3 linked regions of the Homo sapiens genome follow. The protein of the gene in region 1 purifies or fractionates together with the protein of each later gene. This does not show direct contact. Each region holds a gene or a part of one and is shown in the gene's direction. Other genes may lie near its edges. The genes, in order: ALKBH5, USP53 and EPN3.

Evidence for each region.
Region 2: the proteins of ALKBH5 (region 1) and USP53 purify together in Homo sapiens (affinity purification with mass spectrometry, with the first as the bait; one large-scale study listed by BioGRID). This does not show direct contact.
Region 3: the proteins of ALKBH5 (region 1) and EPN3 fractionate together in Homo sapiens (co-fractionation; one large-scale study listed by BioGRID). This does not show direct contact.

What each region holds. Positions count from the first base shown.
Region 1 is NC_000017.11:18,190,259-18,193,906, forward strand, and holds part of ALKBH5 (RNA demethylase ALKBH5), read left to right. Parts: intron 1-3,648.
Region 2 is NC_000004.12:119,268,188-119,271,835, forward strand, and holds part of USP53 (ubiquitin carboxyl-terminal hydrolase 53), read left to right. Parts: intron 1-80; coding exon 81-233; intron 234-1,503; coding exon 1,504-1,650; intron 1,651-3,108; coding exon 3,109-3,648. UniProt on the Homo sapiens protein: Deubiquitinase that mediates 'Lys-63'-linked deubiquitination of tight junction proteins, such as MARVELD2 and LSR, and which is involved in the survival of auditory hair cells and hearing.
Region 3 is NC_000017.11:50,531,275-50,535,534, forward strand, and holds the start of EPN3 (epsin-3), read left to right. Parts: upstream 1-1,460; 5' UTR 1,461-1,711; intron 1,712-4,260.

The sequences.
Region 1 (3,648 bases):
ATTTTTCAGGGCCAGGTGCGGTGGCTCATGCCTGTAATCCCAGCACTTTGGGAGGCCAGGGCGGGTGGATCACCTGAGGTCAGGAATTCAAGACAAGAATGGCCAAGATGGTGAAAGCCCGTCTCTACTAAAAATACAAAAATTAGCCGGGCGTGGTGGCAGGCACCTGTAATCCCAGCTACTCGGGAGGCTGAGGCAGAGAATTGCTTGAACCCAGGAGCTAGAGGTTGCAGTGAGCCAAGATTGCGCCACTGCATTCCAGCCTAGGCAACAGAGTGGGACTCTGTTTCCGAAAAAAAAAAAAAAAAAAAAAATTTCAGACACCTCATTTAATTTGCACCTAATCTTCTGAGGAGGGGCTTGCTGTGATCTTTGTTTTGCAGAGGCAGAAACAGGTTCTAAGTGGTAGAATAGTTCAGCTCAACACACATTTCATTTAGTGTCCACTGTGCAGGGATGAGTAAGGCCTTTGAAGAGCTTTGTCTTGAAGGGAAGACACAATTTCCACAAGGCCAGATGGAATAGCAAAGAGGCATGAGAGGGTGTGGTTGAGCAATGTAGGGGGAACCCAGCCTGGGCAGTCAGGGAAAGGCCCCCAAAAGAGGAGATAGACATGTCAGCTCCTTCGAGAGTCACTCTGAGGTATAGGACTAGTGGGTGACATTTGCAACATATACTGGTCAGTGCCTCTGGGGCTGGGGCTGGGGGCTCAGCCCAGAGAGGGAGCAGGCAAGCCAGATGGCATAAGGTTATTTCCTCTTCTCCTTTCCCTGTGAAAACAAAAAAGCAGGAGGTCCTGGAACTTTTCATGCCAGCAGTAGGGCTGGACCCAAGGGCATATTAAGTTGCAAGCTGGCCGACTGAGACTTTCAGACAATTTATTTTGTAGCAAGTAGGTTCCTTAATAGTAAATAATACCCTGTGGTCTCTGCTCGACATTTTGTGAGATTGGCCAGGAGAGCTTCCCTTAATCAGGACTTTGAGCTCATGTTGCCAGAGCAGCCGGATATTCTGAGGAAAGGGTCAGTGGGCTGTGTCATAGCTGCTAGGAAGTTCTAGAAGACCAGTACTAATAAGCCTTCCAGGTTGGGTCAGTGCCAAAGTCATTTTTGTGGGCCTGTGCAGCCCTACCTCCATACTAGTTCTTCCAAGGCCTGGGCTCCGTGGCAGGAACCTGACATGGCTTATTGTTTGTTCTAGAGCCCTTTGGGGGATGGGGTCAGGGAGCATGCGGGCAGTCAAGCTTTGACAAACATCTGGATTTGCTCCAGAACTGCATTAAGAAAAGTGGTTCCTTGTTGGAGATGGGAAGTCAGGGCCCTTGGTTATGCATATAGCCAAGTCAAACAGATTGATAACACTTGTCAATGGCAGGGAAGGTTGCCTGTAGCCAGCACTGCAGATTCAGGACTTAGAAACGTGCCTCTGGGGCCGAGCATGGTGGCTCACACTTGTAATCCCAGCACTTTGGGAGGCCGAGGTGGGTGGATCACGTGTGATCAGGAGATCGAGACCAGCCTGGCCAACATGGGGAAACAGTCTTCACTAAACATACAAAAATTAGCCTGTAGTCCCAGTTACTTGGGGGTCTGAGGCAGGAGAATTGCTTGAACCTGGGACGTGGAGGTTACAGTGAGCCAAGATCATGCCACTGCACTCCAGCCTGGGCAACAGAGTGAGACTCTGTCTTTAAAAAAAAAAAAAAGTGCCTTTGAGACCTTTGACAGCTCTTTGGGAAAGTATTGTGTGTCTATATGGGACAGTCTTGCAGTCTAGACCCCCATTCCCCCAGTGTGGAATGATAAAAGCATGGGATGAGAACTAGAGTTCCTAGCTCTGGAAATGGGGCCCAGGCGGCCCCCACTACTGGCAGATCCCTGCAGGGGGAGCCCAGACCATGTCTCTTTGGCAGATGCTGAATCCAGGGCTCTGGCTTGCCCCAGGATAGTCCAGGGCCCTCTGACTTTTGTCAGAGTGCTTAGTAAAGATTGTAGGGTGTCAGGCACCCTGCATTATCTGACTTAATTCTCGCAATACCCCTGCAGGTAGGCCTCTCACCACCCCTTTCCAGGAGTGTCAACCAAGTAGTCATATAATGCTGTTTTTCTGCCTGGAAGGGAGGAGGCCCCGTTTTTAAAATCTTGTAATCTTAAAAACTTTAATCTTGTAATCTTTAAAACTGTCCCCATTTTTAAAATCTTGTAATATTAGTAGCAGCAAAAGAATAGCTAAATTATAAAGCATAACAAAATGAATACCCAAGAACCTACTGTTCTCCTTATTACAGATGAAGAAACTGTACAGGTTTTTAGGTTCAGCATGTGATTTAACAAAGGTCACAAAGCTAGTAGGAGACAAAGCTCACATTTGAACCCAGGTCTCTTCAACTCACTAACTCCTGTGTGGTACTTCTCACTGTGGGCTGATGGGTATTAATAGGTATTATGAGAGAAGGTTCTTTGGTAAGTGCTCAAAGTCAGTGGGTTCTTTTGCTGTAGTAATTCTCATGTGCTTTAAATATATTAATGCTTTTTGAAACTCTAATCAGTATTTTACAAATTGATTTCACTGTAGACATTCGTCCACTGTCTTTTTCTTTTTTTTTTTTTTTTTTTTTTTGAGACGGAGTCTCACTCTGTCACCCAGGCTGGAGTGCAGTGGCACTATCTCGGCTCACGGCAACCTCCACCTCCCAGGTTCAGCGATTCTCCTGCCTCAGCCTCTGCGATAGCTGGAATTACAGGCACCTGCCATCATGCCTGGCTTATTTTTGTATTTTTGTAGAGACGGGGTTTCACCATGTCGGCCAGACTGGTTACGAACTCCTAACCTCAGGCAACATGCCCACCTTGGCCTCCCAAAGTGCTGGGTGGGATTACAGGCGTGAGCCACCGTGCCTAGCCTGTCTACTGTCTCTTATGGGACTGGTGTTCATGGAGAAAATTTTGAAAAATTCTTGTCTAGGAGCAGCTTGAGGGAGAAGGTGGATCTATAAAATAAAGGTTTGGGCCGGGCGCGGTGGCTCACACCTGTAATCCCAGCACTTTGGGAGGCCGAGGCTGGCGGATCACGAGGTCAGGAGTTCAAGACCATCCTGACCAACATAGTGAAACCCCATCTCTACTGAAAATAACAAAAATTAGACAGGCGTGGTGGGGTGCGCCTGTAGTCCCAGCTACTTGGGAGGCTGAGGCAGGAGAATCGCTTGAACCCGGTAGGCAGAGGTTGCAGTGAGCCGAGATTGTGCCACTGCACTCCAACCTGGGTGACAGAGTGAGACTGTCTCAAAAAAAAAAAAAATTAAATAAAATAAAGGTTTGTTCTATCCCCAGCATGAGCTCAAATCAGATTTCCAAATCAGAGGTGCTTCCTTAAGGCTGAGCCTGAAGCAGTCTGGCTTTTTATCTCTTGTTGGCTCTTGCATCCAGTTATTAGAGCTGAGGTTTGGCCAGCCTGGCCATCTTGAGGGGTCCTTCCCAGGCCTGCAGTGTTTTTAATAGTTAAGTTTGTGTCTGTACAACTAGCCTTTGAGAAGGGAGCTGATCAGCAGCCATGAGAGAAGGGTTTGTGGTACAGGGCCAGGTAGGGAAACTAAGCCATACTTGTCCTACTAGGCTTGTGGCTGAGTTTCTGGGTGTGTAGAACTGC
Region 2 (3,648 bases), on another chromosome or scaffold:
AAAAAATCTGAAAAAAATGATTCAAACATCTCTTCTCATGGGAAGGAAAGGAATGATACATTTTTGCTTCTCTTTTTAAGGATGTGAAAAGCCTGTAATTCATAAGTCAGATAATTTAAAAGAAAATGGATTTGGTGATCAGGCAAAGCAGAGAGAAAATCAGAAATTTCCAACTGATAATATTTCATCATCTAATCGGAGCCACAGTCACACAGGTGTAGGGAAAGGACCAGGTATGTGTTTAAATTGTCATTTTTACATAGTTCCAAGTGAGTGTCCTCCTTTCTTCACTTATCGGAGGATGCTTACCTAGCTTTCCTTGGCTGTGAAAAGATAATAACAAATAGATAACAAAATTCGTCTTTTGATTTATGCATTTCTCTGAGAGCTGTAGTTTTACCTGACCAGTTTGATTCCATGAGTTGTTTGAGTTTCTTCATGCACTCAGACTGTGGTAGGCCTGAGGCAATCTGGACAGTTACCAAATAAAGCAATAATGTGGCATTTCATTCAAGGAGTTAATTATCAGCTTGGAGCAGAAAAACATGAGTTAGTAATTTGGCATAAATGCCAAAATTAAATTTACTGGTAGTGAATGCAACAGCAGTTCAAAGTTACTATTGCTGTAGTTTGTTCTTAACCTCGTTTTTATTCAACTCTGTCTTGTTACTGTTATCCCATAACTAATTTTTACAAGCCAGGTTCTGTAACTTGGGTCCAGAATGAAACCTCACAATACTGTGTACCATTACAGTTTAGAAATACATCTAACTCTTGTGTGGATGTTCAGGATGATTTTGTTAGCAACCTTTAAACATATTAATGAAATAATGTGTAATCATAAAAGTAACTCATTTAATCAAGGGTAGTAAGATTGAGAATTAACAGTTATCCACAAAAAACTAAAATAAAGGCTTTTTAAAAATTCTTAATGAAGCTGTATCTCTTTTCCTTTCACAGATTATTGATACTCTTAGATTCAGACATTTTATGTTTTTCAAAAGACACCTAGTTTTAAGCCCAGAAATAGTATATATGTGTGTAAGAATAGAAGCATTGGAACAAGACAACTTGGGTTCATATTCCTGGTTCTAGACTTACAAACTTTGTGAACTTGGGCAAATTTCTAATTTCTCTCTGCCTCAGTTTCCTTACCCAAAATAGAGACAGTAATTGTACCTCAAAGAAGTAAATGAGTAAGACAACTGGCAAATAGTGACCATTCAGTTACCTTTAGCTCTTATTATTTTAATGGCAGATCTCTTTCTTTTTTTATACTTGTTTTAGGGGCTATACAAGGAGTTTTAAAATACAACATGCATCTCCAGTGTCAAGAAAAATCACATCTAGTTTTTAATCATAAAAATACCATTGTATACTATATATCTACATATCTATGCTCTTTTTAAATATATCTTAACATTTTTATATAGATCAATTTTTATTTTTATTGGGCAATTTGAAAAATGATCTGTATCATAGTAAGAATGATTTCTTTTACAGCTAAGTTAAGTCACATTGATCAAAGGGAAAAGATAAAAGACATTTCCAGAGAATGTGCTCTGAAAGCTATTGAACAGAAAAACTTACTTTCTTCACAAAGGAAAGATTTAGAGAAGGGACAAAGAAAAGATTTAGGACGACATAGAGGTAAGTTAAGATCTTGTACTATTGATTTTAAAAGGAACTTCTAAAAATCTTATTTTAAAACTGAATTTTATAACTTTAATTTCTGTATATGTTAAATAATATATATTAAAAATACATAAATATATAAGTTAAATATATATACCTATATCTAATATAGAAATATATAAATTACATATATTTCTGTATATGTATAAATATATAAATTATATATAATTTATATAGTTTATATATAGAAATTAAATTATATTAAAGTTATTTTTAATAACTTTATTTTGAAGAGGTGAGAGTTCACTCTTGTCCAGCCTAGAGTGCAGTGACACAATCATAGCTCTCTGCAGTCTTGAACTCCTGGGTTCAAGCTCTCCTCACGTCTTAGCCTCCTGAGTAGCTAGGACTACAGGCACATGCCACCACACCTGGCTAAATTTTAAAAAGTTATTTGTAGAGATAGGGTCTTGCCATGTTGCTCAGAGTGGTCTTGAACTGCTGGCCTCAAACGATCCTCTTACCTCAGCCTCCCAAAGTGCTGGGATTACAGGGGTACCCAGACCTATTATATTTTATATATTTATTAATATGAGTTCTTTAATACACCTATACTAAATCTAAATATGCAAAATATCCTGGTTTGTTCTTAATTCTAACCTGGGATACTTGTATATATGTGTTTCGATGTTTTAACTTACTTACAGATATAATTCACTCATGGCACATTCAAGTAATAAGGAAGTTTATAAAATTAAGTGAAGGGACTCCTTTTCTGGCAATCCCTGACCTTCCCCCTCTTTACTTAGTATTTCCATTTCCACATTATAAGCATGTCTCTTTATGGTTCTATGCTTTTTTCTTTATGGACAGAGCATAATTTAACTGATAGTGATAGACTTTACAGGCTGATTTAAGATTTTTGCTTCAGCAACATCTTTTTTCACACATACCTTTATACGTTTTTGCCTAGAGCCATAGCATAAAATTCCTTCAGAGGAATTTCTGGGTCAGGATATGTTTACTTTTAATTTTGACAGATGTGGCTCAGTTGCCCTCTTGAAAGACTGAACTAGTCTGCACTCCCACCAACAATGATTGGATGTCTGTTTGTTCACACTCTCAGCAACAATTGGTTTAACAAACTTTTAAATCTTTACCAATATAAGAAGTGGAAAATATTTTTATGATTTTTGTTATGAGTGAGATAGAGTGCTTATTTTTTTAAAAACTGCCTCAATTATGATCTACCTTAGAGATCATTTTTTGAAGTTTCTTTTACAAATACCCCTCATTAAGCATACACAAGGACTGGAAAATCACTTTTTAATCTCAAAGCAGTATGTGATATGTACTTGTAATTACTATTTACCTAAAACTCTTTAACATTTTATCTCTAACAGGTATTTGCCTTGTGACTACAAGGTGGCTCTGAGGAGTAATTCATGTGTATCTTTAATTTTTTTTTTTAAGATTTGGTTGATGAAGACCTTTCACATTTCCAATCTGGATCACCTCCTGCCCCAAATGGTTTTAAACAACATGGGAATCCACATCTATATCATAGTCAAGGAAAAGGATCATATAAACATGACCGAGTTGTACCTCAGAGTCGAGCTTCTGCACAAATAATAAGTTCAAGTAAATCCCAGATTCTTGCTCCAGGAGAGAAAATAACTGGCAAAGTTAAGAGTGACAATGGCACTGGATATGACACAGACAGCAGCCAAGATTCTAGGGATAGAGGAAACAGCTGTGATAGCAGCAGTAAAAGCCGGAACCGAGGTTGGAAACCTATGAGAGAAACATTAAATGTTGATAGTATTTTTAGTGAAAGTGAAAAAAGACAGCATAGTCCAAGACATAAACCAAATATCAGTAATAAGCCTAAATCTAGCAAGGATCCGAGTTTTAGTAATTGGCCAAAAGAGAATCCAAAGCAAAAAGGTTTAATGACCATATATGAAGATGAAATGAAGCAGGAAATAGGAAGCAGAAGTTCCCTTGAATCTA
Region 3 (4,260 bases), about 32 Mb from region 1:
AGGTGCTTCCCACAGAGTAAACTCTGCCTGTGATGTTGTCCCGTTCTTCCAGGTCCGTGGGCTGCTGGACACCCTGGTGACTGACCTGATGGTCCTGGCTGATGAGCTCAGCCCCATAAAGAATGTCGAGGAGGCTTTGCGCCTCTGCAGGTGACTCTCGGGCCCAAGCAACCTTCTGGAAAACGGGTTAATAAATAAATCAATAAAGAACCTTCAAGTTTCTACTACTTCCGTGTGCCTCTGTGTCTTGCATGATGGATCTTGGCTAGGTCAGCTCCTGATCCAGGTCCTCCCATGTTCCACCTGCCCTCAGATCCCCTCCTGCCAGCTGCCAGAGCCCTCCTGCAGGAGGACAGACAGACATAGCTGGGGAAGTGATGTGTGGGATGCCAAGCAGAGGAGCAGATTGGTAGCAAGACAAGGAGTCAGGTGACAGGACAGTGTGTCACCTCTGGTAGTCCCTGCCTCTGGCTTCCTTGGCCCACACTTTCAGGGTCGTGCTTCCTGGAGCCAGGTCTTCCCGAAGTGTCATCACCAAGTATGACAAAGTGTGAGATGAGGAGTAGAACTAGACCCATGGGACCTGGCTCCCTGCCATCTCCCCTCTTCAGCTGGGTCCCAGGGCCCCAATTCAGTCCCTGAAGATCATGCTCACCACACCTCTTCAGCTCTAGAGGCCACATCACCTTGTTATTTCGGGGTCTAGTCTGCCTTATCCCCCTCCTCATCTCAAACTATCTGGCCTTGAGCCATCTTTCTGCCTTAAAAACAGCTGCTGATCTTCATGCTACCTCCCTTGCTCAGGGGAACATGAAACAGGCTAGAAATGGCTCTCAGAAAAAAAGGTATTGTCAGCTCAAACTCAGGCCCCTCATTGTCTTCTGTCAGTCATAACCATTTGGGGCTGGGCTCCCTGTGTGAAGAGCACTCCAGGCTCCCAGAGTTTGAAGAACAACTTTGGTTTTTGGGTGGGTGGGCATCCTTAAGTGGGCCTCAGGCATCCTCCAGCTGAGATGCAGGAGGGGGAGGATGGACAGAAGGATCTGACTCCGTGTGGGAAAGGCAGGGAGGGGGCTGTGCTGGAGTCCTGATGCTCTCCTCCCCAAGAAGACGAGAAGACGGGGGCTCCACCAAAGAGCCAGCCCCAGGGAATGTCCCTGCCCTCTCCTTTAATGTCCTCCCGGCCCAGAGGAGGAAGGGGAGGGGTGTGGTGGGGGTGTTGGAGCCCCCCTCCTTTCCTGTTGAAGAGGCAGGGGAAGGGTTAACTCAAAGCAGAGGGGATCAGGTCGCCAGCACTGGCTCCAGATGTGCACTTCCTGGGGGCGGCCAACAGGCAGGCCCCCCACCTCTCAATGCACCACTTGCCTGGCCAGCAGGAAGGGGTTAACCTGCCCTGCACTTCCTCCTGTGTCCTGTTACTGCTGAGGCAGACCTGCCGGGCCAGCTGAGCAACTTTCCTCGGAGTGCTGCCTGGCGCTGGCTAGGAGGCAAACGCACGCGGGAAGAGCTGCTACCCATTCCAGGGACCCTGCCGCTGCCCCTCTGAGGGGTCTGCACCTCCTGGGAGCAGGTGGGTCTCTGGGACGAGGGTCCATGGTGGATGGCTCTGGAGACGCTCCCGAGGCTGTGCCGTCCCGCTGCTGCACAGGTCGGAGGGTCACCGCAGAGGCTACTCGGGCTGGGGCTGGGGCCGAGGGAGCCCGCACTGGAGGTAAGCTTCCTCCCTGGCCCCCTCCCTGGCAGTGGCGGCATGGAAGGCGGGGGTTGGTGGGGAGCAAACAGTGGTTCTGGGGCTTAGTCTCTTTTCCAGGTGCGAGGGAGAAGGCTGAGCTGTAGAGGACCTAAAGGCTTCTTTCCTGCCACCCCTCCCTCCCTGCCGCCCCCAAAAAGGGACTCAGGGCCCCCTCCCCAACCATCCTGGGACTTAGCATCTTTGGTGGCATCTTAGCATCTTTGGTGGCATTCCCCACAGACTCCTTCTGCACATCTCTGCTGTTTCCTCTTCTTCAGCCCCTCATGCACACCTCTAGCCTCAGGGCAGTCCCCCCTCCCCCATCTTCTGTGCTCCCGGGATGCAGCTATTACAGTGGCCAGAAGCTTAGAGTTCAAGCTCACCCCCTGTCCCTTACAGCATCAAGAAGGGCACTGTCATTCCCCACTGCTCAGGCTGGATCTGACTTGGAGGCAGGGGCTGGAGCCCACCTTAGCAGAGGACGGGAAGAGGGTGTGGGCTGGGCTGGTGGGTGCACAGACTTTACGCAAACTCATGCACGTGTGACTGGACAGATCTGGGTTCTCTCCATCTCTCCGAAACCCTTGCTGGGGATGAGCGATCTGCATTTTTCGGTCCTGACTTTTGGGAAACTCTCCAGATCCCCCCATCCTGCAGGCCCTGAGAAGAGCAGCCCCTCCCTACTGCGCAGTTCTCCTTGGGACCCTGTATGCAGGAGAGAGCTGATACTCCGTGCCCCGTGGCCCATCCCACCGCCTGCTGGCCCTGCTCCCATCCCCTCAGCTTCCTCCCTCCTCTGCCCTCTCGTCATCTCTGAATTCTCAGGCCCTGCCCTCTCTGTGCCCTTCCCTCCACCTGACAGGGTCTGGCTCAAGGTCACTGCAGTAATTCCATACCCAGCTGCCCAGGGCTGCTGCTGCTACCGCCACCGCCTTATCGGCCGCTGGGTTTCTGTTACACTCCCTTTTATTTCTGGGCATATCGTGTTCGATAAAACCCTTTGCTTGTAACACTGCTGGCAGCGCTCCCAGCTGCTCCCTCCCGCGTTCCCGCGTTCCTTCCTTTCCTCCTCCCTTCTCTGCGCTTGGGCAGGCTTCTTCCTTTCCTCCTCCCTTCTCTGCGCTTGGGCAGGCTTCTTCCTTTCCTCCTCCCTTCTCTGTGCTTGGGCAGCCTCACCTTGTCCCCTCAAACTCCAGAGAAGGAAAATCAAGGTGCCTCCCCATGTTTCTGGCCCCGCCCTTCCCCCCAGCCCCTGCAGGGGTGTGCAGAGAATGCCCACCTTCTGTGAGAAAGGTCCAGGCAGGGCCGCTGGGCCCACACCGAGAGTCCCCTCCCAGAGGCTGGTGCCCCCACACAGGCCAGGCCGGAGGGCCAGGGCAGCCAGGTCCAGGTAGGGCTCTGGTGCAGTCACAGTGCCCGACTGGTTCTGCTAGTTCCAGCGGCCAGCCGGTAGGGGCGTGTGCTGGGCGGGCTTTGGTGCACATTATTTCCCATCTTGACTCTGCCACCCCCAGCCACGGGTTGGGGAGGTGAAGGCAGGTCTGAGTCACTAGCAAGGGGGAGGGCAGGAGTTAAACAAGTTGTGGCCGTGGCATTCCCACAGAAGGCCCACGACCCGCTGGAAGGAAAGAGATAGCAGACAAAAGGTAGGCTGCGCTGTGGGCCAGGCACTCTCCACCTCGCCCACTCCCACGGTATCTTATTCTCTGGGCCCCCAACAAAACCTGCCAAGGCATGTTTTCAAAGCGTGGGGCTGCTTTGAACTGAGCCCAGCACTGGCGGGGCTGGGGTGGAAGGAGCGTGGAATCGGGTGCGAGAGGACAGTCTCCTTCAGATTCCTGCTTCTGGCAGCCTGGGGACCAGTTGGGGCACGGGCTGGGATGGAGGGTGGAGCCGAAAGGTGTTTGGTGGGTGGGGGACAGTTCACGGGTGAAGTGGAGGCTCTGCAGGCCCAGACAGTGTGTGTGTGCATGCACACACCAGTGCTAGTGTGGGAGGAATGGTGGTGGTCAGGGAATTCCTCTTTTGGTTTCTGAAAGGGCCTTTGGGAGGACCTTGGGCCTGGAGTTGTATTCAGCAGATAGCCTGGACCTGTGGCTACTGGGGGGAATTGGGCTGGCCCAGCTCTTCTCCCTGCTGGGGTACCAGAGGTCCACTATGTGTCCAGCGTTTTGGGGCTTTGGAGAACCCAGACTGTTCCTACTCTCAGGGAGCTTCCATTCTAGCTGAGAAGGTGGGACTGAGACAGTAAAGCAATCCGATGAAATAATGACCAAACTGGGTAACACTGACAATAAGAATTGGATTAGTCTTCTGGAGTCCTGGATGGTAGTCCAGGCTCTGCCACTTACGTGCCATATGATGCAGGCAGGTCCCATCCCCTCTCTGGCCTCAACACTTCCATGTGTACGTGGGGGTGGCATGCAGGAGTGTTGGCAGTGGCCAGAACTCTGAGGGGCAGTCTTCCTCAAACGATACTTGCTCTCTTGCCTTCTGGCCCAGGTCATAGCATTTCTTCTGAGCCGCCC